Regions from separate parts of the Homo sapiens genome. Here all the other regions are linked to region 5. Evidence: fine-mapped expression QTL. A gene starts in region 5. Each other region holds a variant in brackets. All regions are shown on one strand. Distances are between the middles of the regions. Region 1 holds the start of ZFTA (zinc finger translocation associated). Region 2 overlaps RTN3 (reticulon 3). Region 3 has its middle 5.5 kb from the start of OTUB1. Region 4 overlaps RTN3 (reticulon 3). Region 5 holds the start of RTN3 (reticulon 3). Region 6 overlaps RTN3 (reticulon 3). Region 7 overlaps LNCROPM (lncRNA regulator of PLAAT3 mediated phospholipid metabolism).

What was found. PIP is the estimated chance that this variant, and not a neighbour inherited with it, causes the effect.
Region 1: its variant is fine-mapped to the expression of RTN3 in whole blood (TOPMed, PIP above 0.99). The same link has a PIP of 0.9 or more in monocytes.
Region 2: its variant is fine-mapped to the expression of RTN3 in whole blood (INTERVAL, PIP above 0.99).
Region 3: its variant is fine-mapped to the expression of RTN3 in whole blood (TOPMed, PIP above 0.99).
Region 4: its variant is fine-mapped to the expression of RTN3 in whole blood (TOPMed, PIP above 0.99). The same link has a PIP of 0.9 or more in blood mononuclear cells.
Region 6: its variant is fine-mapped to the expression of RTN3 in whole blood (INTERVAL, PIP above 0.99).
Region 7: its variant is fine-mapped to the expression of RTN3 in blood mononuclear cells (TOPMed, PIP above 0.99).

Annotation. Positions count from the first base shown.
Region 1 is chr11:63,766,322-63,770,488 of GRCh38, forward strand. ZFTA (zinc finger translocation associated) reads right to left here and starts at 2,454. Exons shown (of 5, transcript NM_001144936.2): 1 at 2,163-2,454. The coding sequence starts at 2,301. RefSeq lists silencers at 1,871-2,170, 2,391-2,440, 2,571-2,780, 2,801-3,270. The variant A/C (reference allele first, on the strand shown) is at 1,928.
Region 2 is chr11:63,719,211-63,723,377 of GRCh38, forward strand. It overlaps RTN3 (reticulon 3), which reads left to right. Exons shown (of 9, transcript NM_001265589.2): 3 at 1-1,822. Among named protein-coding and RNA genes, the nearest start is that of RTN3, 40 kb to the left of the region's middle. The variant A/T (reference allele first, on the strand shown) is at 1,891.
Region 3 is chr11:63,978,816-63,982,976 of GRCh38, forward strand. No RefSeq gene overlaps it. Among named protein-coding and RNA genes, the nearest start is that of OTUB1, 5.5 kb to the right of the region's middle. RefSeq lists an enhancer at 1-487. The variant G/A (reference allele first, on the strand shown) is at 2,143.
Region 4 is chr11:63,727,111-63,731,277 of GRCh38, forward strand. The region is part of intron 3 of RTN3 (reticulon 3); the gene reads left to right. Among named protein-coding and RNA genes, the nearest start is that of ZFTA, 40 kb to the right of the region's middle. The variant C/G (reference allele first, on the strand shown) is at 2,430.
Region 5 is chr11:63,679,059-63,683,225 of GRCh38, forward strand. RTN3 (reticulon 3) reads left to right here and starts at 2,442. Exons shown (of 9, transcript NM_001265589.2): 1 at 2,442-2,720. The coding sequence starts at 2,579. RefSeq lists a silencer at 2,615-2,734.
Region 6 is chr11:63,738,153-63,742,319 of GRCh38, forward strand. The region is part of intron 3 of RTN3 (reticulon 3); the gene reads left to right. Among named protein-coding and RNA genes, the nearest start is that of ZFTA, 29 kb to the right of the region's middle. The variant C/CT (reference allele first, on the strand shown) is at 2,135.
Region 7 is chr11:63,619,949-63,624,115 of GRCh38, forward strand. All of the region lies in intron 1 of LNCROPM (lncRNA regulator of PLAAT3 mediated phospholipid metabolism), which reads left to right. ATL3 (atlastin GTPase 3) reads right to left here. Exons shown (of 13, transcript NM_015459.5): 13 at 4,139-4,167. Among named protein-coding and RNA genes, the nearest start is that of LNCROPM, 5.7 kb to the left of the region's middle. The variant C/A (reference allele first, on the strand shown) is at 2,276.

The DNA of each region.
Region 1 (4,167 bases), 87 kb after region 5:
GAGACAGTTTTTCAATCTCTGATTTCCAGGGAAAGAGGCGAGGGCTTTGATGGTGAGCCCTGAGAAAGGGAGCTGGGGGAGGGGGTGTTCCGGGGCAGGAAAGGGACGGCAACAGCAATAAAAGGGATGGTAGAAGTGGGAGCCAAAACATTAGCCCTTTACAAAGGGCAAGGACCCTTTAAGAGGAGATCAAGAACAAAAGGACGCAGGGCACTGTGGAAATAGCTCTGACTTTTTAAAAAATAAGGTGAGGGCCAAGGAGCCAACCAGCTCTGTAAGGTGCCCTTTCTGGACAAGAGCCGTAGGGAGAAAGCCAGGAGAGCAGCAGGCCAGGGCGGTTCCAGCTGGAGCAGAGCAGGCAGTGGGGCCAGACAAACAAAGGGGGCATCTGTCTACAGCCAGGGCTGCACACGGGACCCACCCACCTGGGGCCCCCGCCAGGAGGGCCCCACCCACAGGTCTTCTCCCTTTTTCCAGTAATGCTTCAAATATAGCTTCCTGAGACTCCCATTTTGGGGATGGGCTAGGCATTGTCAGTTCCCCAAATCTAGGCCCCCACATGGGAGGGATCCCCAAGACAAAGCTGCCAACATCTCCAGGGAAAGGAGTTTCTGAGACTGAAACTTCTCCAGATTCTGGAGGAGCCAATGACCCTGTAAAGGGATGGCAGGAGGGCCACCAGAGTGACAACTAATGACACTGCGGCAGGGAGTGGCCACCATCCACTGAAGCCCATTAAGTCTTTCTGGGGCTTTATTTGCTGCTCTGGCAGGGAGCCGGCCACTGCCCAGCAGTCAGAAGGGCGGGCACTGGAGAGGCCCCACTAACCCAATGGTGTTCCCTGTGCCAGACACCCACCCAGAGCAGTCCCCTACCCTCCCTACAGTTCCCACCCCTCTTGATTTAGAAAAATGGTCTCCTGGGCACACAGGCAGGTTCTGGTCATTCTCCCAGTGGAGAATCACAGGGTTGGGAAAACAAAAGACAGGATCAGAAAGGGCTCCTGTCACCCTTGTGGAAGTTTTTTTGTTTTAGTTTTTATTTAAGTAGATCCATAGAATCCACTGGCTTCGGAGTCATAGGCCTGGGTTCAAGTCCTGGCTTCACTGGTAACTTGCTCTGTGACCTTTGATAGGTCATGTCCGCACTCTGGGCCTGAGCTTCTTTGTCTGCAACGACACTGGCTAGCTGGCTGGTCTCTAAGCATCCTTCCAGCGCTGGATCCAGGCTAGTCTAAGGTGGATTGGCCCTTTAAGAGCCGAAAAAGGGGGAGGAGCCGAGGTTCTTTAAAAACAAAAGGGGATGGGGCGTTTCTGGGAGGGGAGAGACCGGGAGGGGAGCCTGGAGATTCGGGCAGAGTCTCCCTGGCCTGGAGGAAACCCTCAAGGGTCTTAAGGCGTGACCCTGCAGCCGGGAAATGAGTCAACAGTCTCCTTTGAGAGCGAACGAGGAGGACTGGTTGGTTCCGCTAGAGCTGACAAATTAGGGCAAAAAAAAATTCTGAAAAGAAGGGAAGGGAGAATGCACCGGCCGGAGGGGTGCCTGCCTTTGTGGGCGAACCCATCGCTTTAAAAACTGCCCGCGGTGGGAAAAGATGGTGTGGGCCCCCGGGGCGCAAGCGATGCACTTTCCTAGGGAGAATGTGGGAGAAAAGAAAAAGGGTGCATGTCTCTCACAAGGCCACGAGACGAGAGGAGCAGCCCGATTTAAAACAGCAGAGTTCGGAGCTGAGCTCAGCTCCGCTGGGGAAAAGCCCCCGAAGGGGACCCAGGGTCTGGGCGGACTTTTGAGAGAAAGCCCGATTAGGGAGACCACCTGGGAGTCTGAAAGAGAAAGGGGCGGGGGCCAAAGTCCAGCCTCGCTCCGTGGCGCCCTGCCCCGTGGGGCCCCTCGGGCCTGGCCCCCAAGGCGGGGCGCTGCGGGCGGC[A/C]GCGGGGCCCTTTAAGGGGGAGGCGAGCCGCCCGAGCCCCGCGAGCCGACCCCGGGAGCTGGGCGGGGGGCTCCCCCGCCAGCCCTGCAGCCGCGCTCCGCGCCCACCAGGTGGCGCCCCCGGCCGCCCTGCCCGCGTCCCCCGCTTTGTTCGGCGGCGGAGAGGGGCCCCGAGCCGCAGCCCTCCCTTCCCCCACGCCGGGGCCCCCGCCCGGGCCGCCGGCCCCAGCTCTTACCGCCTTCGTCTTCCTCTGGCTCCGCGCTGCCGCTCGATCCGGCGGGCGGCAGCCGTCGGCCCCGTGCCGAGGCCACTGCTGGCCCGGGGCCGCCCCTGCCGCCGCTGCTCCGGCTCCGGTGGTCCCCGCCGGGCTCCATGCGCTGCGCTGCGGAGCGGGGCCCCGGGGCGGCGGGGCGCGGGGCCGCGGGGCCGGCGGCAGCCCGCGCGGAGCGCTCGCTGCGCGGGGCCCCGGGGCGCGGGGCGCATGCACGGGGCGGCCGGCCGCACGGACGGCAGGCTGCTCGCTCGGCGGCGCGGGCTGGACCGGGGTGGGGATTCCTGTCTGGGGCCCCTGGGGCTCCTTTAAGGGCTCCTGGGTAAATTTAAAGGGGCCGCGCGCTATTTCCTCCTGCCAGCTCGCGGGGGGCTGGGGGGAAAGGCGGGAGGCAACGAGCCCAGCCGAGGCTCAGCAGCCTGCGCCCGCTCCGGACGCTAGGGGCACGGACCTCGCCGCCCCCGCGGGCCCGCACCGCCGCCTGCGGGGCTCCGGTCCCGGCTCCCAAAGGGTCACTGAGGTGGCGAGGGGCGCCCGCGTCCGCTGCGACGCGCTTCCACCCGGGCTCGGCTCGCGGCCACCGCCCCCTCGGGGCATCTCAGCGCCGGGAGCGCCCGCTGAGGAGGCCGGGGTCCCTGCCCGGGGCTGCCTCCCGCCGCGCAAGCGGGTCGCGAGCTCCGTGCGGGCCCCGGAGCGGCCGCTACTGGCAGGGGCCCCAGATGGCTGCGGCCCCGCCGAGAGGGTGGAGCCGTGGGGGCGGCCGCGCCCCCTCCCGCGGGAGCCGCCCGGGAGCGCTGAGAGCTCGGGCTTCTCATGGGAGGGGCGGACAAGCGAGGCTCCCCCGAGCCAGCCAGGGGTGGGGGCGGCGGCCGCAGTGACTCGGGCTGGGGAGAGGGGCGCACAGCAGACCCGCAGAGAGCCGGCTGCGCCGGGGCCCGACCCTGCGGGCTGGAGGTGGCCCCAGGATGGAAGCCGGGAGGAGAGGGCGTGCGCGGCGGTGACTCAGGATCCTGCCCCCGCAGGCCTGGGGGTGCCTGACGAGGCCCTTGACGCAGCCCCAGACCCCCGGCCCGGCCCTAGGAAGCGAAAAATGCTGGCCCCGGGCGGGGTGTCGGGCACCTGGGGAGGCGCGTTACCACGGCTCGGAAGCGCTGGGCGGACCCTGGCTGCGGGTCCCGGGGCGCCCCCGGTCCCCCAGCTCCGGAGAAGCGGAGCGCAGGGACCCGGAGAGGCAGCCGGGGCGCAGCAGCCTGGGGTCCTCCTGCGAGGACCGGCGGGAGGAGCAGGTGCTCGCTTTGCCTGAGGTTGGGCGCCCACAACAAAGGCGATTCCTGGAGATCCAAATTACAGGGTGCGGGAGGCCTGCAGGGTCTTCTTATCTGGAGGCGGGTTTTGTTCCCTGCACTGGCGAGTTACCCAGCTGTCGCCGATGGCAGTTCGTCCGCTTGTCACCACCTACTGTGTGCCCGCATGCTTTCAGACGCTGGACACACAGCACTGAAAAACATGGGCAAGACCGATACTGCCTGTGACTTTCCTTCTCAGAGGCACCCACAGCCTCTGAAAAGGAAACCGCTCCAGCCTTTCGGGAGCCATGGGAATTAAATTACTTGGAACACAGGAAACCTGTCCCCGAAGTGCTTATGAGGAGGGGACAAGAACTAAGATTTCTTAAGTGCCTCTGGGCTCTGTCGCCGCGGAGATGTCCCGTCTCTTCCTCAGCCCCCATGTTGACGTGCTTGAGACTCCACCTTGGGTAAACTGAGTCTCCTTTCACAGCTCTGCTCTCTTCGCGGCAGGCCCTGCGCTCAGGGGGGCGGGGGGGGGTTGCACTTCCTCTCACCCACTGGGGTCAGAGGCCCTGATGCTGATGGGTGCCACGCAGGCCCTGAGATGGGAGATTCCTTAATTCATTATGTCCCTCATCTGTGCCAGGCCCGGGAACACAAAGGGAAAGTGAGACAGAGAC
Region 2 (4,167 bases), 40 kb after region 5:
GATGTTATTGAAAAGGATTCCCCTGAATCACCATTTGAAGTAATTATTGACAAAGCAGCATTTGACAAAGAATTTAAAGACTCATATAAGGAGAGCACAGATGATTTTGGTAGCTGGTCTGTGCACACTGATAAAGAATCATCCGAAGACATTTCAGAGACTAATGACAAGCTTTTTCCACTGAGAAATAAAGAGGCAGGACGTTACCCAATGTCTGCATTGCTCAGTAGGCAGTTTTCACACACAAATGCAGCACTGGAAGAGGTGTCCAGATGCGTGAATGATATGCATAACTTTACTAACGAAATACTGACTTGGGATCTGGTTCCCCAAGTGAAACAACAGACCGATAAATCTTCTGACTGCATCACAAAAACTACAGGACTTGACATGAGTGAATATAATTCAGAAATTCCAGTTGTAAATCTTAAAACTAGCACTCATCAGAAAACTCCTGTATGTTCTATTGATGGGAGCACTCCCATCACTAAATCAACAGGTGATTGGGCAGAAGCATCTCTCCAGCAAGAAAATGCTATTACTGGAAAACCTGTACCTGACTCTTTGAATTCCACAAAAGAATTCAGTATCAAAGGTGTGCAAGGCAATATGCAGAAACAGGATGACACACTTGCAGAATTACCTGGATCTCCACCTGAGAAATGTGACTCTTTGGGTTCTGGAGTGGCCACAGTGAAAGTGGTTTTACCTGATGACCACCTGAAAGATGAAATGGACTGGCAGAGCTCTGCATTGGGAGAAATCACAGAAGCTGATAGTTCTGGTGAGTCTGATGACACAGTAATAGAGGACATCACAGCAGATACATCATTTGAAAATAACAAAATTCAGGCTGAAAAACCTGTTTCCATTCCAAGTGCTGTTGTAAAAACAGGTGAAAGAGAAATCAAAGAGATTCCCAGTTGTGAGAGAGAAGAAAAAACATCTAAAAACTTTGAAGAATTGGTCAGTGACTCTGAGCTGCATCAAGATCAGCCTGATATTCTTGGAAGGAGTCCAGCTAGTGAGGCAGCATGTTCAAAAGTACCCGATACGAATGTCTCCTTAGAAGATGTGAGTGAAGTTGCTCCTGAAAAGCCTATTACTACTGAGAACCCCAAACTTCCTTCAACAGTGTCTCCAAATGTTTTTAATGAGACAGAATTCTCATTAAATGTGACAACATCTGCCTATTTGGAGTCATTACATGGGAAAAATGTTAAACATATAGATGATTCCTCCCCAGAGGACCTGATAGCAGCCTTTACAGAAACCAGAGATAAAGGAATAGTAGATAGTGAAAGAAATGCTTTTAAAGCAATATCAGAGAAGATGACAGACTTTAAAACAACTCCTCCTGTAGAAGTCTTACATGAAAATGAGTCCGGTGGTTCTGAAATTAAAGACATTGGAAGCAAATACAGTGAACAAAGCAAAGAAACAAATGGAAGTGAGCCTCTAGGTGTTTTCCCTACCCAAGGTACTCCAGTAGCATCTCTTGACTTAGAACAAGAACAGCTCACAATTAAGGCTCTTAAAGAATTAGGTGAAAGACAGGTTGAGAAGTCAACTTCTGCACAGCGTGACGCAGAATTGCCTTCTGAAGAAGTACTGAAGCAAACTTTCACATTTGCTCCAGAATCTTGGCCACAGAGATCATATGACATCCTAGAACGTAATGTCAAGAATGGATCTGATCTTGGGATTTCCCAGAAGCCCATCACTATCAGAGAAACTACTAGGGTAGATGCTGTTTCCAGCCTTAGCAAGACTGAATTGGTAAAAAAGCATGTCCTAGCAAGACTTCTGACAGACTTCTCAGGTAACCATTTATATTAGAATACTGCATGTGGTTAATTCTGTGATTGATTACTTATCAGCGTGCCATTT[A/T]TGTTAGTCTGATTTATACCTACAAAATTATGGCTAAAATACAAAAACAATATGCTGTATGATGGGAAAGGCAGATTCTTCTCCTGTCTTTTTTTAAATGATTGCTTGATTTGGTTTCCTTAATATCAATATTTCCCAAAGCAGTAGACCACTTTGTAACATTAATCTTCCCCTAAATATTTTTTCTATGCTCGCTGGGTACGGTGGCTCACGCCTATAATCCCAGCACTTTGGGAGGCCGAGACGGGCGGATCACAAGGTCAGGAGATTGAGACCATCCTGGCTAACACGGTGAAACCCCGTCTCTACTAAAAATACAGAAAAATTAGCTGGACGTGGTGGCGGGCGCCTGTAGTCCCAGCTGCTTGGGAGGCTGAGGCAGGAGAATGGCGTAAACCCGGGAGGCAGAGCTTGCAGTGAGATGAGATCGCGCCAGTACACTCCAGCCTGGGTGACAGAGCAAGACTCTGTCTCAAAAAAAAAAAAAAAAAGAAAATTTTTTTTCTATGCTCCAGTTATATTTCAAGGTACTTCTTTTCTTATAGGTTGCCCCTAAGGTGATATTAGGTGAGAATCTAATATCATCAGGTTCTTACTTATTTACAAAGCTTGTTTTTAAATCTCCATAATTGTCATACTTTTTAGCACTTGGATTTTTTGATATGTGCTTTGTGGAATCTTAGCAATCAAAGATAAAGGAATTCCTGCTGGGAAAGATAGTAAATGAAACTTTTAATTAATGTGATCGTATACTATAGAGATTTTATGCTCTGAAAGTAGGTAACCAGTATTGTAGTACTATTTTGTGAGTAATGCTTAGGAGAACTCATGCATTCTTCTACTTTCTATCTTATTTAATATTCTTCAGGCCAAAACTCATTATTAGATGGTACCAGAAACCCCTTCTCTTGTCTTTTATCTATTTCAAATGATCACTTTTCTAGCAAGTGGCTTTCAGTTAGATTACTGCAAATGCTGTCTATTCTGGGATCTTGGAAAGTACAAGAAAAAAAAAGGATCTTTCAAGCCCCTCTACAAGGGACCCCCATCCTTTAATGTAATACCAAGTTTTACATCTACTGTATGGTCAGTGTTAGGTGCTATGTAGAGGTCTGTGGTTTTTAAACTATTTGATTATAGATCTTTTATCAAATGAAATCATACACAGAGTTGTAGTATTTACAAGAAAATTAGATTTTTGTTAGGCTAAATGTATTTTGTGTTTGATTTTGTGCCTTTTTATAAAGGCATTTTCTTACTGGAAACTGTAGGTAGATTTATCTTTTTAAGTTTTAATATTTAAAATAGATAAATTGTACTTAACCTTACAATGGTATTGTGAGGATTAAATATGAAAATGCAGGTAATACAGTGCCTAGCACATAGTAAATATGCAGTCAGATTTAGCACCAAATACAGGGCCTGCCACATAAGTAGTACTGGATAATTATTTGTTGAATGAATGATATGAATTATTTCACTAACAATTATCAGTGAAAGACATTGAGGCTTTTTGATAAACCAAAAATTTTGAATTACCAATTAAGGATAGCTCTTATACTCTAGCATTTGAAGCTCACTGAATTTGGATTAAAGAGTACTAGGTTCTAATTCTTGCTGTGCTGTGTCTAGAAGTATGACTTTGAACAAGTAACTTACATAACCTTTCGGGGGCCTCAGTTTTAATATCTGTAAAGTGAGGATGTAAAGTGAAGTAGATGGTCTTCAATTATCATTTAAATAATATGATTCTCTGGCTCTGGTACATTCTAGATTTCTTCCTCAGTTGTCATAATTCTTACAGGTAGTAACTTTTGGGCAATAAGGCATATAGGAATTATGCTACAAGAACTCCAGTGTCTAATTCTGGCAAATTCCTGTTTTAGCATGACCTTAGATGACTAGTCTAATTGGTTCAGCATCTTCCTTTGTTAATGTGATGATCATTATTTTGCCCTGCTTTGTATGTTGCAGTAAATAAAGTGCTGTGTAAATGCTAATTATTAGTGATTATCAACTGAATTATTTAATCTAGCGTGAGAGATGTAAAGGGCTATGGAAGTTCAGGATATTTGTCACTGACCAAAGTCTATGATTAGTGTATGTTTTTAGATTGTAATTAAAGAAGACCGGTATAGTTAGACCAAGAAGTTTAAAGGCCTTTCTTGCAGCTTTCAAAAGTGAAAACCTTTTAAAATTGTCTTATTTATGAATAAATCTTTAAAAATATAATCCATTTCATTGCAGTGAAATAAATAAATAAAAACATAAACCATT
Region 3 (4,161 bases), 300 kb after region 5:
CTCGAGGAAGACATGGCTTTACCTCTCCTTTGCATCCTCTTTGCTGGGGTGACTTGGTTGATTTCTGAAAAGACACAGGTTCAGTCTCCCCTGTGGAGCTGAGGCTGCCAGGACGCCTGTGCCTGGAACAGTGGGCAAAGATGTCAGGTGAGAGGGGAGGGCTGTGGTTGGCCTCAGGCCCTGAGTGTCTGAACACACGTCTTCCTAGCTCCTGTTCTGCAGGTTGTTTCCTGATTTATGTTGACAGAGCTGAGGGTGGACCTGACTCTCCTGCCGTAGCCTGGTCTTGCTTGGCTTTTCTGCGTGATGCCCAGGGAAGCCTGTGGGGCCCAGTGCCTGATACCGTACTGGGTTTAGCTCCTGCCATAGCTGTTTCCCTGAGCGTTAGGAAATTGTCCTCTGCCTCCTAGGTGGCTCCTTTCCTTCCACACAAGCCAGACTTTGTATATGAGGCTGAAGGGTCAGGGCCTAGTTGGAGGGCCGGGGAGAAGCTGCCTGGGCCTGTTGCCCCTAGTGGGGTTCAGAATGCTGCAGGTGTGCCCGGTGGGAGCATCGGCCAGGGAGGGGAGAGCCTATGTTGGATCTGGAGCCAGGATGGGGTACTGACCTAGGAGAATCCACCTGCCACATACAGGTATCACAACAGGTCCCTTGTTTCTGGATGGAGGGTCCTCATGGCCATCTTCCACACAACAGGACCACCCCTTGTTCTGTGCATGGTTCTGGGAGGCTTTTCTGCTTACATTAGTCCCTGTGGAGGTGGGACCTGAGCGCCCCCTGACTGTCCTCTCAGGCCCATCTCCTGGCCTGGCTGGCAGCTCCCTGGCCCTGGGGACCAGCCACTGCGGTGTGGGAGGCCGGGGCATTCCCACCAAGCCTGCACTTCTTGAGTAGAGGGCCCTGAGTGTCCTGGCCCTTGGTTGACTCAGGGCTGCTTTCCTCTGGCTGTGGGCACAGATGAGGTGCTGGTCTCATAACCACGGGGCTGCACACAGCAAGGACGTGGCACTGGAAAAAGTGTGATCTTGAGTTTTTCTTTTTTTTTTTTTTTGAGACGGAGTTTTGCTCTTGTTGCCCAGGCTGGAGTGCAATGGCACGACCTTGGGTCATTGGCAACCTCTGCCTCCCGAGTTCAAGCGATTCTCCTGCTTCAGCCTCCCGAGTAGCTGGGACTACAGACATGCACCACCACACCCAGCTAATTTTGTATTTTTAGTAGAGATGGGGTTTCTCTATGTTGGTCAGGCTGGTCTCAAACTCCCGATCTCAGGTGATCCACCCGCCTTGGCCTCCCAAAGTGTTAGGATAGGCATGAGCCACTGTGCCCAGCCTTCTTTTCTTTCTTTCTTTTTTTTTTTTTTGAAGACAGAGTCTTGCTCTGTTGTCCAGGCTGGAGTGCAGTGGCACGATCTTGGCTCACTGCAGCCTCCGCCTCCCAGGTTCAAGCAATTCTGCTGCCTCAGCCTCCCAAGTAGCTGGGACTATAGGCGCAGGCCACCACACCTGCCTAATTTTTGTATTTTTAGTAGAGATGGGGTTTCACCATGTTGGCCAGGCTGGTCTCCAGCTCCTAACCTCAGGTGATCCTCCTACATGGACCTCCTAAAGTGCTGGGATCACAGGCGTGAGCCACTGCACCCAGCCTGTTGTCTTGAGTTTCTTTTCTTTCTCTTTTTCTTTTTTTTTTTTTTGAGATGGAGTCTTGCTTTGTCACCCAGGCTGGAGTGCAGTGGCGCCATCTCGGCTCACTGCAAGCTCTGCCTCCCGGGTTCATGCCATTCTCCTGCCTCCGCCTCCTGAGTAACTGGGACTACAGGCACCCGCCACCACGCCTGGCTAATTTTTTGTGTTTTTAGTAGAGATGGGGTTTCACTGTGTTAGCCAGGATGGTCTCAATCCCCTGACCTCGTGATCTACCCGCCTCAGCCTCCCAAAGTGCTGGGATCACAGGCGTGAGCCACCGCACCCAGCCTGTCTTGAGTTTCTATGGTAACTCCACTGCCCTGCTAAGGGTTTGATTGGGTGTCCTCCATTTTTGTGCCCCTGGAATTGAATGATGGGTGCTGGTCCCCCTCCGAGGAGGACTGCTCCAGCCCAAAGTTTGATTGATTGAGCCACTGCCCCAACCTGTGCAACACCAAT[G/A]GCTCCAGGCAAGTCCTTCAGGACCCTGGTCTGAAGAAGCCCTCAGCAAGCCCAGCAGTTCCTCCAGCCCCTCTTCCTCCCACAACCTGCCATGTCCTGCATTTGTGGGGATGGGTGGGGTGATGTATGTAGGGGTGGGCAGGACAGTGTAGAGTTTGAGTGACCTATCACGTTTGAACCCCAAACTCCTTGGTCCCCTGTGTGGCCATTAGGTCTGAAATCCGGTCTTCCACTGGCCTACCCTTGTCCCCAACCAATTCAGGGCCCTGGAGCAATTCTCTATAGAGAAAGCAAGGATCCTTATACCCCAAACATTTTCTGTGTCCACATGTGTGGGTTTCTGTGCCTGGTGTGCATGCTGACTGGAGAGGCTAAAGTCCCGGCAGGTGCTGTAATGTCAGGAACAGTGGTCTGGGAGTGGGGAGGCTTGGGCTTGAGGCCTGGCATGGCCACTGAACTGTACGACCTTGGGCAAGTCATCTGGTCTCTGAATCTCAGTTTTGTAAAATGAAGATATTGTGGCAGACAGAATAATGGCCCCCCGAAAATGCCCATGGTCTACTCCCTGGAACCAGTGAATATGTTATCTTACATGGCATGGGGGCTTTGTAGATGTGAATAAGGTCATGACCTTGAAATGAAAGGCTATCCTTGGAGATCCAGGCGGGCGCAATGTCGTCATAAGTCCTGAAGTGAGAAGCACTTAGCCTACCGTTGCTGGCTTTAAGGACAGAGGAAGCGGGCCATGAGCCAAGGACTGCAGGGGCCTCTAGAAGCTGGGAACAGCCCTCCTTTACAGCCAGCAAGAACATGGGGACCTTGGTCCTACCTTCTGCCAACCCGAACGAGTAGGAAGTGGATCTCCTTTAGAGCCTCTGGAAAGAAATGCAGCCTGCAGACACCTTGATTTTAGTCTGGTGAAACCCAGACTTCTGACCTCCTAAAGTGTAAGAGAGGCTGAGCATGGTGGTTCACACCTGTAATCCCAGCACTTTGGGAGGCTGAGGCAGGTGGATCACGAGGTCAAGAGATCGAGACCATCCTGGCCAACATGGTGAAACCCTGTCTCTACAAAAAATACAAAAAATTAGCTGGGCGTGGTGGTGGGTGCCTATAATCCCAGCTACTCAGGAAGCTGAGGCAGGAGAATCGCTTGAACCCGGGAGGCGGAGCTTGCAGTGAGCCGAGATCGCACCACTGCACTCCAGCCTGGGGAACCGAGCAAGACTCCGTCTCAAAAAAAAAAAAATTGTAAGAGAATAAATTTGTGTTGTTTTAAGCCACTAGGTTTGTGGTGACTCGTTACGGAAGCAATAAGGAAAGTAATGCATCATGTGGTGCTGTGAGGCCCTGGGGAGGGTCTGGGCCCAGCTGCTGGGACCGTCTGCAGGCATAAAGTGAAGTGAATGTACAGCACTTACAGTGGGTGCCCCAGCGAGGACTGGGGTGGTGGGAGTTGCTTGGGAGGGGCTCTGCCTGCATTGCCTCTGCCCCTCTGCTTGCTTTCGGCCTTAGGAGGTCTGAATCCTGCAGGTGACTCACAGCCCAACTTATGGCCCTGAGGCATAGACCCTGCTCTGCCGCATCAGCCTTTGCTGCTGTCAAAGCCTCCCTAGACCACGATTTCAGGGCTGCTGCCTGGAGACTCTCGTGGGTACAATGCAAGGTTTATGTGGGGGCCAAGCATGCCCCTACTCCCGCTGTCTGGGCAGCTGCCCGACTCCCAAGCCTGCACCGAGAATGGTCGCCTAATCCCCATGTGTGGCCCACCCTTCCAGGCTTTGGGCTGGCCACACCTTCCTGTGAGGACTGTGGCTGTTCCAGGGCCCATGCCATGCCCCTGTTGTCTTGGTCCATTCAGCCTGACTCCCTTCCCTGAGAGGCAGAGGCAGAAGAGATTGGGTGGGTCTGGAGCCATGTGGCCCCTTGGGGCCTCTGGGCTGTTGTGTAAACTTCCTCTAAGGCTGAAGTTTCACAGTCCCTGAGTCCCACTATGGGGTCTCCTCCCCTCCCTCCACC
Region 4 (4,167 bases), 48 kb after region 5:
CTGCACTCCAGCCTGGGTGACAGAGTAAGACTCTATCTTGAAAAAAAAAGTTTGCAGTTTGAATCTAACCAAATTTATTACATGTTAAAACAAAAGTAATGATACTCTCCAGAGGAATAGAACACAGTCTGGAATTTGTACAGCATAATATTCACAATGTCCAGGATATAATCCAAAACTACATGTTTTAAGAACCAAGAAATTATAACTCAGTCTGAAGAAAAAGAGACAATCGATAGAAACTAACTGCATGTGTTGGAATTAGGAGTCAGGATTTTAAGGGTTTTCATTTTAATCACTCAAAGAAGTAAAGGGAAATATTCTTGTATTGAATAAAAAAGAAAATCTCAACCTAGAAATCGAAACAAAAAAGAGTCAGGTGGGGATTCTAGAACTGTAAAATATAACCACTGAAATTAAAATTCAGCAGGTGACCTTAACAGCAAAATGGAGATGACAGGGGAAGAAGCTGGTGAACTTGATAGCATACTAAAGAACAGAAAGAACACATATTTTTTAAAAGTGTCACCAGAGCTTCAGAACCCTGTGGGACAATATCAAAAGACCTAACTTTGGCCAGGCACAGTGGCTCACGTCTGTAATCCCACCACTTCAGCACTTAGGGAGGCCGAGGCAGGAGGATCACTTGAGCCCAGGAGTGCGAGACCTGCAAAACCTATTTTTTATAATTGGAGTCCTAGCAGGAGAGGAAAGTGAGAGAGAGACTGGAGAAGGACATATTTAAAGATAAAATGGCTGAAATTTTCTTAAATTTTATGAAAGGCACATTTACTGATGAAAGACGCTCATCAAACACCACCTACTAGGATAATTACAAAGAAAACCATACCTTGGTGTATGTGTCGGGGTCCCCAAGATAACCATCAGGGCCAGTGATTTGCTAGAAGGACCCATAGGACTCATAAACTGTAAACTAGCAGTTAATGGTTTATTACAGCAAAAGGACATAGGTTAGAATTGGCCAGAGGAAAAGACACACGGGATAAAATCTAGGAGAGATCAGATGCAAGCTTCCAGGTATTGAATGGAGTCATACAGGGATGTACTTAATTCTTTTACAGTGATGCGTGATAACATGTGCAAAGGATTCCCAACCAAGGAAGCTCTTTCAATCTTTGGTGTCTAGCACGGCATGCAGTGCCCATATGACTGAACTCAGCTACTCAGACCCCAGACCCCCAGAGCAAAAACATGTACTGGCAATAAATCATATTGTTAGGATAAATTTATCTGATACAGCATGGCCTAAGACCTCAGGCATGCAAAAATACTTATGAAGCAGAATATTCAAAGGGCTCAGAGGCCATCTCCAAGGAGCCAGCAAAGGGCTAGTCCTGAAGACAGACCTTTCTTTGGCATGTGCAGGGCTTGGCATTCTAGGCCTGCTGAGTTTTCACCCTTTCCTATACAGTGTATCGTAGTCAAGTTGCTGAAAACCAAAAATAAGGAGAAAATCTTGAAAGTAGCTAGAGAAGAGGCTGGGCGCGGTGGCTCACGCCTGTAATCCCCACACGTTGGAAGGCCGAGACAGGTGGGTCACAAGGTCAGGAGTTCGAGACCAGCCTGACCAACATGGTAAAACCCCATCTCTACTAAAAATACAAAAATTAGCCGGGGTGGCAGTGCACACCTGTAATCCCAGCTACCCAGGAGGCTGAGGCAAGAGAATCACTTGAACCCAGGAGGCGGAGGTTGCAGTGAGCCGGGATTGCGCCACTGCACTCCAGCCTGGGCGACAGAGCGAGACTCCGTCTCAAAAAAAAAAAAAAAAGAAAAAAGAAAAGAAAGTAGCTAGAGAAGAATGACACAGGGAAATGACAATTATAATTAGAGCTTACTTCTTACTAGAAACCACAGATGTTTAAAAGGCAGTAGAGTAACATCTTATAAAGTGCCCAACAGGGAAAAAAAACCTGTCAACCCAGGTTTCTGTATTCAGGAAAAAAACAACAAAAAAAACAAAAAAACTGCAAGATTAAAAGACATTTTTAGATAAAAGAAAACTAAAAGAATTCTACCAGAAGACCTGCACTACAAGAAATGCTAAAGGAAGTTTTTCAGATTAAAGGAAAGTGATACCAAATAAAAACTCAGACCTTTAGGAAGGAATGAAGAGAATTGGAAGTGGTAAACACCTGGGTGAATATGAAAGGCTTATTTTTTTCCTCTTAATTTCTTAAAATATATAGGATTGCTTAAAGCAAAAATTGTAATAACGTGTATAGAGGTTATGATGTTTATTTCTTAGGACAATTATAACAGAAAAAAACGAGTATATGGACTGTACTATAGCAAAGGTTTCTGCTTTTTTTTTTTTTTTTTTTTTTTGTTTGTTTGAGACAGGATCTGGCTCTGTGGCTCTGTATCCCAGTCTGGAGTGCAGTGGTGCAATCATGACTCACTGCAAC[C/G]TAGACCTCCTGGGCTCAAGCAATCCTCGTGCCTCAGCCTCCCATGTACCTGGGACCACAGGTGCATGCCACCACACCTAGCTAATTTTTTTATTTTTTTAGTAGAGACAGAGTCTCATTATGTTGCCAACACTGGCATTGATCTCCTGGGCTCAAGTAATCCTCCCACCTTGGTCTCCCAAAGTGCTGGGATTATAGGCATGAGCCACTATGCCCAGCCTGTTTCTACATTTTTAATGTAATGGTACTATAAATATATATATATTTGGAGACAGGGTCTCGCTCTGTCACCCAGGCTGTAGTGCAGTGAGTGGCATGAACACAGCTCACTGTACCTCAACCTCCCAGGCTCAAGCAATCCTCCCACTTCACCTTTTTGGGACTATAGGTATATGCCACGATGCCCAACTAGTTTTTAAATTAATTTTATTTTTATTTATTTTTTGAGACAGAGTCTCACTCTGTCACCCAGGCTGGAGTGCAGTGGCGTGATCTCAGCTCACTGCAACCTCTGCCTTCCGGGTTCAAGGGATTCTCCTCCCTCAGCCTCCCAAGTAGCTGGGATTACAGGCACTCACCACCACGCCTGGCTTATTTTTGTATTTTTAGTAGAGATGAGGTTTCACCATGTTTGTCAGGCTGATCTCAAACTCCTGACCTCTAGTGATCCACCCTCCTCGGCCTCCCAAAGTGCTGGGATCATAGGCGTGAGCCACCGTGCTCGGCCAAAAGATGTTATTTAAATATAAAGACACAGGTTGAAAGTAAATGGATGGAAAAGATATCCCAAAAAATTTATAAATGTATGCCATGCAAACAGTAAGCATAAGAAGATGAAAGCTTTTATCAGAAATAAATAAGGGACATCTTATCATGATAAAAGATACCAGGAAGTCTTGACAGTTATAAGTGTGTATGTGCCTAATAATGGCTTCAAAATACACAAAGCAAAAATTGACAGAATTGGCTGGGCAATGGCCCATGCCTGTAACCCCAACATTTTGGGAGGCCAAGGTGAGAAGATCACTTGAGACTAGTTTGAGACCAGCCTGGGCAACATAACCCTTAACCCAACATAACCCTACCCTGGAGTTTTTTTGTAGAGACCCCCATCTCTACAAAAATTCAAAAATTAACTGGTTTGGTGGCATGCATCTGTAGTCCCAGCTACTCAGGAGGCTGAGGCGGAGGATTGCTTGAGCCCAGGAGGTGGAGGCTGCAGTGAACCATGATCACACCACTGCACTCCAGCCTGGTGACAGAGTGAGACCCTGTCTCCCAAAAAGGCAGAATTAAGGAGATATATTGGCAATCTGTAATAATTGGAAAATTTAATACCTCTTTCTCAGCAATTAACTAGACACACCCAGGTATCTGAACAGTACAATCAATGAATTTGACTTAGATGGTGGTTATAGAACACTACTCCCTACAATAGCAGAATACACATTATTTTACAAGTGTATAAGGTATGCATTCATTGGTATCGATAATATACTACTAGGCCCACAAAACAACTCAGCAAATTTCAAAGGATTTTTTTTTTTATTTATTTATTGGAGACACAGTTTCACTCTGCCTCCCAGGCTGGAGTGCAGTGGTGTGATCTCAGCTCACTGCAACCTCTGCCTCCCGGGTTCAAATGATTATTGTGCCTCAACCTCCCGAGTAGCTGTGATCACAGGCGCGTACCACCACGCCCACTAATTTTTGTATTTTAAGTAGAGACAGGGTTTCA
Region 5 (4,167 bases):
GGTCAGGAGTTCAAGACCACCCTGGCCAACATGGTGAAACCCCGCCTCTACTAAAAATACAAAAATTAGCCGGACATGGAGGCATGTGCCTGTAATCCCAGCTACTCAGGAGGCTGAACCAGAACTGCTTGAACCCGGGAGGCGGAGGTTGCAGTGAGCCAAGATGGCACTACTGCACTCCAGCCTGGGCAATAGAGCAAGACTCCATCTCAAAAAAAAAAATGTCTGAAGGGTCTGAAAAGACCAGTAAGACCACGTGCATATCTTGCTTTTTAACTTCTCTGCTGCTACATATTAGGAAAATGGACTTCCTTCCAGCTGGAGTCTCCAGATTGTAGCAAGTGCTGTCAGAGTTAGCTACCAGCATCATTTATTTCCTTATCTAGCACTTAATAATGTAGATTTTTGTTTGTTTGTTTTGTTTTAAGGAGCAGAGCGTTTAATAGACAAGAAAGAAGGAAGGAAGAAGAAAACAGCTCCCCTAATAATGCGATTTTTAAAAAAACATATGCACGTATCAGAATGGGTAGATAACTGGCTTGGTTATCCGATCTGCTATTATTTCCCTTTGCCATCCAAGAGACAGTTTGCTGCATTATCAGCTGATGCAGTAAGTGCCAGGGTAAGGTATTAGCCACAAAGTTATTTTGGGAAATATTTTTCTATGCCTTTTTCAGAGCATTGCAAAGGCCAGGAGTCATCCTCCCACCCCCTGGGGCTTTACCTGACCTTAAAAACTCAAGGGCAGATGTAGTACACAGCTTGTTCTAGAAGATTTCCACTGGTCAGATCGCCTTTCCCCTCAGTGGCAGCTTGGCTGACCACCTCCCGCTTCATGAGGCTGCATCTTTACAGGATCTGCTGATCCTGCAATTGTACTTTGGGTCATCGATTGCTGCTTTAGCAGTAACAGTCGACAGCCTTGATTTTTATTATTTCCAGGATACAGTCCTCCTTTTTTTTTTTTTATTTGACGGAGATTTGCTCTTTCACCCAAGCTGGAGTGCAATGGTGAGATCTCTGCTCACTGCAACCTCTGCCTCCCGAGTTCAAGCAATTCTCCTGCCTCAGCCTCCCGAGTAGTTGGGATTACAGGCGCCCGCCACTACCCCCAGCTAATTTTTGTATTTTTAGTAGAGACAGGGTTTCACCACATTGGCCAGGCTGTTCTTGAACTCCTGACATCAGATGATCCACCTGCCTCGGCCTCCCAAAGTGCTGGGATTACAGGTGTGAGCCACCGCGCCCAGCCAACAGTCCTCCTTTAACAAAGACTATGCACCTTTCCAATATTTTGACCAGATGTAGGGAGAAGGCTTCGAATTTGGCAATCCAGCCCAGGAAAAGCAAAAAATGAACAAAATCCAATATAGGCTAGAAATCTGGTTTTAAATACATGTTCTGCTAAGGACCTCTTTTAGTCTATGAATAAAATTCAATTATGTGTATTTTGTGCCTTATTCTGATTTTTTTTACTTTTTTTTTTTTTTTTAAGGCAGGAAGGTTCTCGCTGTGTGGCCCAGGCTGGACTCCAACTCCTGGGCTCAAGTGATCCTCCCTTCTCTGCCGTAGCAGAGACTACGGGCCTCTGCCACTGACTGCGGCCTTATTCTGAATTTTTAATATCTAATTTTATCATCCCCCATAATCACAGCCAACATTTTCTTATCTCCTGGCTCTTCTTCATCAGCTCAGCATTTTTTTTCCCTCTCTAAAATATGTCGTCTCTATCTGACAGTCTATTCGGAGGAAAAGAGAACCTTAAGACCCAAGGTGGACCCTTCTCTGGCAACAGTAACGAGATAAGAATACGAAGCAGGTTCTGCGACTGCATTGCAATGTGATTGGAATGAGTAATCGTTTTTCATTCTGTATAGCATCTTTCTCCACCTACCAAATGGGGGGCCGTGCCATCTCTGCCTCTCGGTGAGGAGATATTACGACACAGCCAGTGAGATTCACAAAGCACCTTGCAGAGTGGGCCTACTCTACACTCTGGTTTTCAGTTTTTATTGGAGTCACAGGTGGGAATGCATCAAACAAAAGATATAGGCTCTGGAATGTACGGGAAAGAGAGTTTCCATAATGGAAGCCCAAAGACATTTCTACCGTTAAAATACATAATCTGCCGACCCTAAAACATTCACATAAAGAGGCAGGAGGGAATACTATCCCGCAGCTCCACGATTAGCCGCAGTCGTGGGCGGGGATTGGGGCTTGGATACGCCTTTTGCGTCTGGTCCCCAAGGGACGCTCCCCAACCCTCGGCGCGCGAGGCGCCGCGTGAGGCCGGCTTTGCCCCTCCTTCCCTGCAAGAGCGCAGAGGAGCGGTTCTTGCGCCTGCGCCCTGCGCCGCTGCGCGCTTTGGCACCCGCTTGGGGCCCTTTGTGCGCATGCGCGCTCGCGCTCCCGCCCTCTAGCTGCGCTCGGCTGAGTCAGTCAGTCTGTCGGAGTCTGTCCTCGGAGCAGGCGGAGTAAAGGGACTTGAGCGAGCCAGTTGCCGGATTATTCTATTTCCCCTCCCTCTCTCCCGCCCCGTATCTCTTTTCACCCTTCTCCCACCCTCGCTCGCGTAGCCATGGCGGAGCCGTCGGCGGCCACTCAGTCCCATTCCATCTCCTCGTCGTCCTTCGGAGCCGAGCCGTCCGCGCCCGGCGGCGGCGGGAGCCCAGGAGCCTGCCCCGCCCTGGGGACGAAGAGCTGCAGCTCCTCCTGTGCGGGTAAGGCGCGCGGGGAGCCCCCGCCCTGGGAAAGAGGGCGAGCGGGAGCCTGGGGGCTGGGGGGATTAGGAGGCGAGGCGGGAGGAGGACGAATTACCCTCGACTACTGACGGCTTCAGCCCCCCGGGGACGAGCGTTTGGAAAATGGGCAAAGGGGAAGGGGAACGTAAGGTTGTGCAGGCGGTGAGGAAATAGCGGGGTGTGAGGAAAACAGGTTGGGGGCGGGGAGATAGTCCAGTGGGCGTTAACGCCAAGACTGGGCAGGTGGGGAAAAATACCAGCTCGTGGGATAAAATGGAGAGTTGCTCGATGCATATGGTGAACCTGGGTGATTTAGTGAGGATTAGAGAGATTGAAAGGATACGGGCAGGTGGGTGGTGGGAGAAACAATTTGTTACTATTTTTGAGGGGATGGTGGTGAAAGGGTTGCATTGCAGGTTTGCAGACAGGTGTTGACATAATCAAGCATTCATGATAGTCCTCCAAAATATTTTTGGCTGCCCATGGGAAGGATGAGGAAGTTTAATGGAAGCATTGTAGCCTGTTTTTTTTGTTTGTTTGTTTTGTTTTTACTGTTTTCGGCTAGACTCCATGAATGCCGGATTTTTCTGAGGCTCCGAGGTAGAAGGAGGCGTGATGAGAATAGCTCAGGGAAGATTTGGGAGGGAGCTGCTAATGGTCCAAGATGGATCCGTGGCTGCATCTGCAACAGCCTGCTCTTCCCTGGCGCTGCGTGGGGGTGGGGACACGCAATCAGTCGCTTATATTCTAGAAAATAGAGTCATGCTAAGCTATCAACATGTTTTGATTTCATGTTTTCTGTGGGCTACTATTGATCGAAGTATAACAAAGGGGGGTGTTTATTGCAGAAAGGGGGAGGGGGAGAACATTCAGACAAAGCAAGGGCTGGTTGAGTCCCCTTCTCCCATCTCTGTGAAAGACTAAGAACGAAGCTGCAGACCTCCTTTAGTTTGCATTGTATACGCGTCTGCCTGCTGGTAAGAGCTGCCTGGCAAGCTCCCCTTATGCAGAAATCTGCAGTGCAGATGCCTTCTTAAGGGGGGAAAAAAAAACCACCATGGGCAGGTGGTAGTTCTCAAAGGAACGGAGTCTTTGAAGGGAAAAAAAATGCCTTTTGTCAAAGGCAGGGCCGTAAATTCGGGAGAGTAGAGATAATTTTGCTCTCTATTTAGTTATGTTAAAGGATTTTGATCATTTTTTTTTAATGCTTCGTTGTCTCCTTTGGCAGAATCTTGGGTTCTAAAGAAAAAATTTCTGATCTTAACCTTAAATGTATTATTCTCTACGTGTTTTTCTAGCAGTGAATTTTCACCTGTCTGAGAGCTTTGGAGCCCTGTTGGATTTTTTCAGTGTGGTTATGGCCATTTCAGTAGAAACAGGCAGTATCAGGAAGCTTTTGCAGATAAAAGAATGAGGCAGCAAATTT
Region 6 (4,167 bases), 59 kb after region 5:
TAAATTGTTCATATTAAAAAGCTTAACTGTTTCCCCTTTATTAACAGTTTCCTTTTTGAGGTTATAAAACATGGCCTTTTTTTTCCTTTTAGTTATTTCAGGCATGTTTGAGTGTTCTTAGGGATGTGTTATAGACAAGTTTTAAGAAACTGTTGCAAGGAAGGTGGAATGAATTGGAGATTTATTTGTTCTTAAAAAATGAAGTGGCTGGGTTCAGTGATTCACGCCTGTAATTCCAGCACTTTGGGAGGCCAAGGAGGGCAGATTGCTTGAGCCCAAGAGTTTAAGACCAGCGTGGGCATCAAACTGAGACCCCCATCTGTACAAAAAATTTAAAAAATTAGCCAGGCATGGTGGCATGTACCTGTAGTCCCATCTACTTGGGAGGCTGAGGCAGGAGGATCACCTGAGCTCGGGAAGTCGAGGCTACAGTGAGCTGTAGTCACACCAGCCTGGGTGACAGAGTGAGACCCTGTCTTTAAAAAAAAAAAAAAAAAGAAGGTAAAGCTGACAGACTACTAAACCTTGAAATTTCTTTCACATTTGTTCCTTTTCAGAATAAGTATTTGAACAGCTCTTCTTTTCTACCTTTGAGGTGTATACTTGGGAGAATAAAGTCAATTGACTTTTGGAAATGGCTAGTTAGAATCAAAACAAGAGCTTTCCCCAAATTCGGTAATAAAATTAACGGGTGAGGAATCAGTAAGGTTTACTGCTGTTCCTCCTGGAAATGGCACAAGACTGATTTCCTTTTTCCTTAGCCTGAGATTACCATTGGATGTGTTAGTGCCCTCTTCAGGTGTAACTTGGGTACTGCAGCCGGCGTCCTTAAATAACAGGGACAAGAAATAGATACTTTAATAAAATAAAACTTTAAAATAAATACCTTAAAGTTTTTAAAATAAAAGTAATATGGCCACATTACAAAAGATTTGGAAAATAAAAAGAAGGAATCAGTCGTAATTCCACCAGCAACGTAAACTCTTGGTGCAGACATTCCTTGTCAGATGTTTCATCTGTCATTAGCAAAATAATATAACTGAAAAATTAGTGATTTTACTTATGTAATGAATCACGAAAAGAGAAAAAAGTAAGGTCCTTTAAATGAAAAAAAATTAAGTGATATGATATTAAAGATAAAGTTGTAACCTGAAAAGTAAGGGAACATTGACTTCGTTCTTTTGAGAATTTTTGGCTTTTTATTTTTCCAGTACCTTTTGAACTAGCTTGGGTCACTTCCCTGTAGGACTTTAGGAAGAGACTAGCCAAGGCTTCATTCTTTCTCTATAAGGTTGTGTACTAGTGTGGCAGTTCGTTAGCCCATTGCCTCACAATTCTCTTCTGTTTTAGAACACCCAAGATAACACATAGCACACCCAAAGAAAAGGACATTCCCTGTCTGTATCAGTGGCTCTCTCCAGTAGTGATTCTCTACCTGACACATAACCAGAATCAAGCAATAATTTGTCCATAGCTTTAAAAAGGTGACATGCACCATCAGGAGTCAGGATCTACTCCCCATCCCACGTCCTTTATCCCATCTCACATGCAGCTGAGAGTCACTGACTTGGACAGTCTTCTCTAAAGAGTCTGCTCATAGAAGGTAAATTTAAGACATAAAAATGTTTAAGACTCTTAATCAAAAGACTTTAATTTTTTCTGATAAATTCAAAAAGATAGACTTTAACCAGCCCTGATGTTTGAGTGTAGATGATGAGGGAGAAAGAAGAGTGAACCCTATTTCTGTATTTGTCTTGGGTTTCTGGGTGGATGGTAGAACTATTTTCTGATCAGGGAAGAATGTCAGTCAGAAATGATGTTTTCTTTGATGTGTGGAATTTGAGGGGCTGAGATGCCTCAAAGTGATCCCTTCTGTTTCCGTAGCTTCAAATTACTACCTACATGTTGATAACTCCCAAATCTATACTCTATGTTGGTCTGGTCTGCCCCATAGGTGATGTATCATACTGCCTCTATCTCCTGGTCCTCTGTCTCCGTATATCATTTACACACCAATCTATTTAATCATAGTTCTGATAGCGCAACACTTTTTCATAGAAAAGTTTATATGGAAGTTTGATACATAAAATAGATTTGGTTAATAAGGCCCCTTCTAACCTCCCCATCTTAGTTT[C/CT]TTTTTTTTTTTTGAGACGGAGTCTCACTCTGTCACCCAGGCTAGAGTGCAGCAGTGTGATCTTGGCTCACTGCAGCCTTCACTCCCCAGGTTCAAGTGATTCTCCTGCCTCAGCCTCCCAAGTAGCTGGGACTACAGGTGCCTGCCACCATGCCTGGCTAATTTTTTTTTTTTTTTTTTTTTTGTATTTTTAGTACAGACAGGATTTCACTATGTTGGCCTGGCTGATCTCAAACTCCTGACCTCGTGATCCATCTGCCTCGGCCTCCTAAAGTGCTGGGATAACAGGCATGAGCCACCGCGCCTGGCCTTTTTTTTTCTTTTAATAGAGATAGGGTCTCACTATGTTGCCCAGGCTGGTTTCAAACTCTTGGAATTCAAGCGATCCTCCAGCCTCCACTTCCCAAAGTGCTGGGATTACAGTCATGAGCCACCTTTAATTTCTTTGTATCTTACTGGCAACAAAGAGGAAAGGAAAAAATCTTGTTGCTCTATAGCTAACTTTAACTTCAATTCTTAAATTTTCTGTTACAATTGTAGCAGAGGTTGGCAGTCAAATGAATAATAATAGCTGATATTGTGTTACTATCTAATCAATAGTATTCTGAGCACTTCTACACATTAATCCACTTAATCCTGGCAACATCCCTATGAAGTTGATCTTGTATTATCCTATTTTACAAATGAGGGACCCGATGCACAGAGAGATTGAGTGTCTTGTCCAAAATCACAGAGCTGGCAAATGGAAGAGGATACAAACTCAGGCATTCTGGAGCCAGAGTCATTTCTGTGCTGTACTAACTCTAAAGCTGGGGATAAAGTATTTTACTAGGTAGGGATCCATGGCCAAGTGGAAGCCAGGAAGCATTAAGGGGTGAAATAATCTTTATTTTATTATAGTTATTTATTTATTTATTTATTTATTTATTTTTTGAGATGGAGTTTCGCTCTTGTCGCCCAGGCTGCAGTGCTGTGGCTTGATCTTGGCTCACTGCAACCTCCGCCTCCTGGGTTCAATCAATTCTTGTGCCTCAGCCTCCTGAGTAGCTGGGGCTACAGGCGTGTGCCACCACGCCTGGCTAATTTTGTATTTTTAGTAGAGAGGGGGTTTCACCATGTTGGCCAGGCTGTTCCCAAATTCCTGACCTTAAGTGATCCACCCGCTTCAGCTTCCCAGAGTGCTGGGATTACAGGCATGAGCCACCGTGCCCAGCATTTATTTTTTTTTTTTGAGACAGCGTCTCATTCTATTGCCCAGGCTGGAATGCAGTGGCATGATCTTGGCTCACTGCAACCTCTGCCTCCCGGGTTCAAGTGATTCTACTGCCTCAGCCTCCCCAGTAGCTGAAACTTACAGGTATGTACCACCATGCCCAGCTAACTTATGTGTTTTTAGTAGAGATGGGGTTCTGCCGTGTTGGCCAGGCTGGTCTCGAATTTGTGACCTCAGGTGATCTTCCCGCCTCAGCCTCCCAAAGGGCTGGGATTACAGGCATGAGCCACTGCGCCTGGCCTGAAATAATCTTTAAACATCTCTTAATGCACAATTGTCTGTTTCTGGATTTTCTATACCATTCTATTGCTCTATTATCTTTCGACCAGTACTATAGCATCTTGATAATGGTAGCTTTATATTTAAAATCAGGTCATGTTAATCTTCTAACTTTATTTTTCAAAGTTGTTTTGGCTCTTCTAGGTTTTTTTTTTTTTTGAGATGGAGTCTCGCTCTGTTGCCCAGGCTGGAGTGCAGTGGCGCGATCTCAGCTCACTGCAAGCTCCACCTCCTGGGTTCACGCCATTCTCCTGCCTCAGCCTCCCAAGTAGCTGAGACTACAGGCACCTGCCACCACACCCGGCTAATTTTTTGTATTTTTAGTAGAGATGGGGTTTCACCGTGTTAGCCAGGATGATCTCGATCTCCTGACCTTGTGATCCACCTGCCTCGGCCTCCCAAAGTGCTGGGATTACAGGCATGAGCCACCGCGCCTTGCCTGGCTCTTCTAGGTTCTTTACATTTGAATTTGCATAGGAAT
Region 7 (4,167 bases), 59 kb before region 5:
AAATAAAATAAAAATAAAGTGCTGAGCCTGACGTCTGGCACGTGGTAAATCCTCACACAACACACGGTGGCTGTTATTAACATGAGAATAGGTATGTGCCCATCAACATCACATGATCTTCACCAGCTTTCTGACAAGGAGACTCAGAGGCAATATAAATACCATAGCTTTATGTGCCTTATCACTCATCAAACAAATTACGGAGCACCCTGAGCCAGGGACTGACTATAAGGTCATCCAAACCCAGGATGGACAGGTTCGGTTTTGAGGCAGCCGGGCTGACTTCTGCCTTTCCTCACCCTCTGCTTCCAGAAGCACCCAGATGTCACCTCCCTTATCTTTTCCTGTTGCTGTGCCAGAAAAAAAGCAAAACAAAACCAAAAAAAAATCATACTGGGAAGGGGGAACAGTACTGAGGGCTATGTATTTTCACTTCTCACACAGTTCTCAAAAGAGGAGCTCTCTAAGAAAGGCCCCGGGACTTACTGAGAAACTGCCCCATGATGCCACACCATCACCAACAAGACGGTCCTTACCCCCCGCACAGAGCAGGTGGACAGGTGGACTGTGATGCCAGGATCCAACTAGTGTCCACCTCCAAAGCTTCCAGGCTTTTCTGCATAGCATGGCTATGAAGCCCCATTCCTCTTGTGATAAGGAGGAAACTATTAATTTTTTTTTTTTTTTGAGACGGAGTCTTGCTATGTCTCCCAGACTAGAGTGTTGGAGTGCAGTGGCATGATCTCAGCTCACTGCAACCTGCGCCTCCCAGGTTCAAGCGATTCTCCTGCCTCAGTCTCCCAAGTAGCTGGGATTACAGGCCCACGCTACCACGCCTAATTTTTGTATTTTTAGTACAGACAGGGTTTTATCATTTTGGCCAGGCTGGTCTCGAATTCCTGAACTCAGATGATCTGCCTGCCTCAGCCTCCCAAAGTGCTGGGATTACAGGCATGAGCCACCATGCCTGGCCAGTTTTTAAGTATTTGTAATCTCTCCATTCTCTGCCTTCTAAGGAGGATAGATGGATCCTCCAGAATCCATTGTTTTGCTGACTCTCTGAGGAGGAATAGCTGAGCAGGTGGGAGAAAATTGCACAGGCTAATTTGCTTTGCAGGCCTAATAGGCCCAATGGGGAATCTGAGCAAGCTGGGTGACACACAGGAAGGCCAGGGCAGGAGAAAGAAAGGGTGCAAGGGTGACGAGAGAAAGTGAACAGGGAAACTGCATTTTGTTTTTTTTTTTTTTTTTTTAGGGAAACTGCATTTAAAGGGAAGCTGTTTGCAATGCTTCTTTGCACACAAGGAACAGAATCCACAAAGTTCACAACAAGGAACAGAAACCACAAATTTCACAACATGACAACATTCAAAATGGGAGTATGTCTCAAGTGCTCCACCAGCCAGCTGAATGCAGGGTTTTCACAGGTGTAAAACATGTGACTATGCCAATTTTGATAGTTTCCTCTGACCAGAAAAATCAGGCTTTTATGAAAGAAACCAAAAGTGAAGTATAACTTCCTTCTGAATCCCCTTTGAAACCCAAGTCCTACTGAAGAGGAAAGAGAACAAATCCCTATTGAAATGCCCTGAAGAGCTTCCACTGCCTAAATGTGCAGCATAACCATCTCTACCTTCTCTTTAAAAAAAACATTCTAGAGGCTGGGCACGGTGGCTCACGCCTGTAATCCCAGCACTTTGGGAGGCTGAGGCGGGCGGATCACAAGGTCAGGAGTTCGAGACCAGCCTGACCAACACGGTGAAACCCCATCTCTACTAAAAATACAAAAATTAGCATGGTGGTGCGTGCCTGTAATTCCAGCTACTCAGGAGGCTGAGGCAAGAGAATCGCTTGAACCCGGGAGGCATAGGTTGCAGTGAGCCGAGATTGAGCCACTGCACTCCAGCCTAGGCACAGAGCGAGACTCTGTCTCAAAAAAAATAAGATAAAAATAAAAATAAAACATTCCAGAAGGCCAGGACTGGTGGCTCACGCCTGTAATCCCAGCACGTTGGGAGGCCAAGGTGGGTGGATCACATGAGGTCAGGAGTTCAAGACCAGCCTGGCCAACATGGCGAAATCCCGCCTCTACCAAAAATACAAAAATTAACTGGGCATGGCAGCGGGCGCCTGTAATCCCAGCTACTCAGGAGACTGAAGCAGGAGAATCGCTTGAACCCGGGAGGCGGAGGTTACAATGAGCCAAGATTGCACCACTGCACTCCAGCCTTGACGACAGAGCAAGACTCAGTCTCAGAGAAACAAACAACAACAA[C/A]AAAAAAATTCCAGAACCTTTAACCTGGGAAATGTCCAGGTTTTGTGTCTCTTGTTGTTCAATGGCCATTGTTAACTGGAATTGGTTATCTGTAATGGATTATTTGTTTTGGTCTGCCCAGCAGTCTTTCATTTGGTGACTCCATGTGGTTCTGGTGGAGCTGTCAGTCATAGCACGTGGTCATCACTCTGACTACAGACACCTGCACCCTAGGTCTGGCTGGTTATAATGCCTCAGAGGCCAGGCTAGTGTTGACCATGGAAGGAGCATGACTCAAGCCAAACAAATCAGAAGCCTTCTCTGGAATGGAGATATACACACGTGTTTTTTCATAGGTAGCTCAAAAAAAAAAAAAGCCTGTTTCCTCAGGGCACATTAAAGTGGGATGACATAAACCTGGAACCACTGGTGCCTGTCCTCCCCTGGGGCATGGAGGAAACCTATCTGCAACAGCAGATAAATAGGTCACTGAACACTGAAATAAGAGCCCTGTTGACATTTGAGTTCCTCCAGTGCCTGATGTCAGCTTTACCCCTATATGTCCGATTACAAGAAACTTTTTCCCAGTTAACAATTTTTTCCTTCTTTAAGCTAATTAGAGTTGGACTTGTCTTTTGCAAAGTGATATATGATAATCAAAAGCAAGAATGTCAATGCGCCAAAGACAAGCCAGCTTGCTTGACTGCTCCCCATCTATACAGGACCGCATTCGTCACCCTGGTCCTTCCTTCTCCCCAGTTTATGCTGAGAGCGTCTACACATCAGTGTAGATGGTGGCACCCAAGTCCTGAATCTTTGTTTTCACCATACTCTTCACATCATCAGCCTCTGAGTTTGCCCCTTCCCTGCTAAACTGTGATGAACTCAAGGGCAGCACCTGGCAAAGCACCTGACACATGGTAACAACCAGGGATGGATGGTTGGATAGAGAAAGTCTGCTGATCCCACCCAGTGTTTCCAACTTGGGAAGAAATCTTTTTACTGTAGGGCTAAATGGGGTATGTCTAGCTATTTGTCGTATTTGAGAAGTTCAATTCAATCTCCTCACTGTGTCCATCAGTGAAAGAGAAAGCTTTAAGTAGAGATTTACGTTCCCTGCCCCCACCCCTGAAGAGCAACTGTTTAATCAGCTGGCTCCAGATGGGGCAACTAAATGAAAGTGCTACAAATTCAGAGGTCTTCACAAGTCCATGTTACTGTAAATGAAATTTGCGTAATTTTTTTTGAGAGACAGGGTCTTGCTGTTGCCCAGGCTGCAGTACAGTGATGGGACCGTAATTCACTGCTGCCTCCAACTCCTGGGCTCAAGTGATCATCCTGCCTCAGCCTCCAGAGCAGCTAGGACTACAGGTGCGCACCGTCATGCCTGGGTTTGTTTTTTGTTTTTTCCAGAGACGGGGTGGAAGGTGTCTCCATATGTTGCCCAAGCTGGTCTCAAAACTCTTGGGCTCAAGTGATCATCCTGCCTCAGCCTCCCGAGTAGCTAGGACTACAGGTGGGTGCCACTATGCACTTTTATTTTGTAGAGACAGAGGTGGAAAGTGTCTCCATATGTTGCCCAAGCTGGTCTCAAATTCCTGGGCTCAAGCATTTCTCCCACCTCAGCCTCCCAAAGTGCTGATTACAGGAGTGAGCCACGACACCTGGCCCTTGTGCTCACTTTTAAGCAACCCTGCCAACAATAGAGCCTTCTCCAGGACTATGCTAGTAAGACACTTGTTCAGTGTCGTTTTGTAGGACAGAGAAAGCTAACTCAAACCACATTGCCACTATCCCGTCAGAAGTCTTATTCACTTTGCCAAGCCAAACTATTTCACAGAACCTCCCATATTAAAAACACAGAGAAAGAAAACACAGATAACATGGTGTTGTGATCTTTATTCCATTAAATG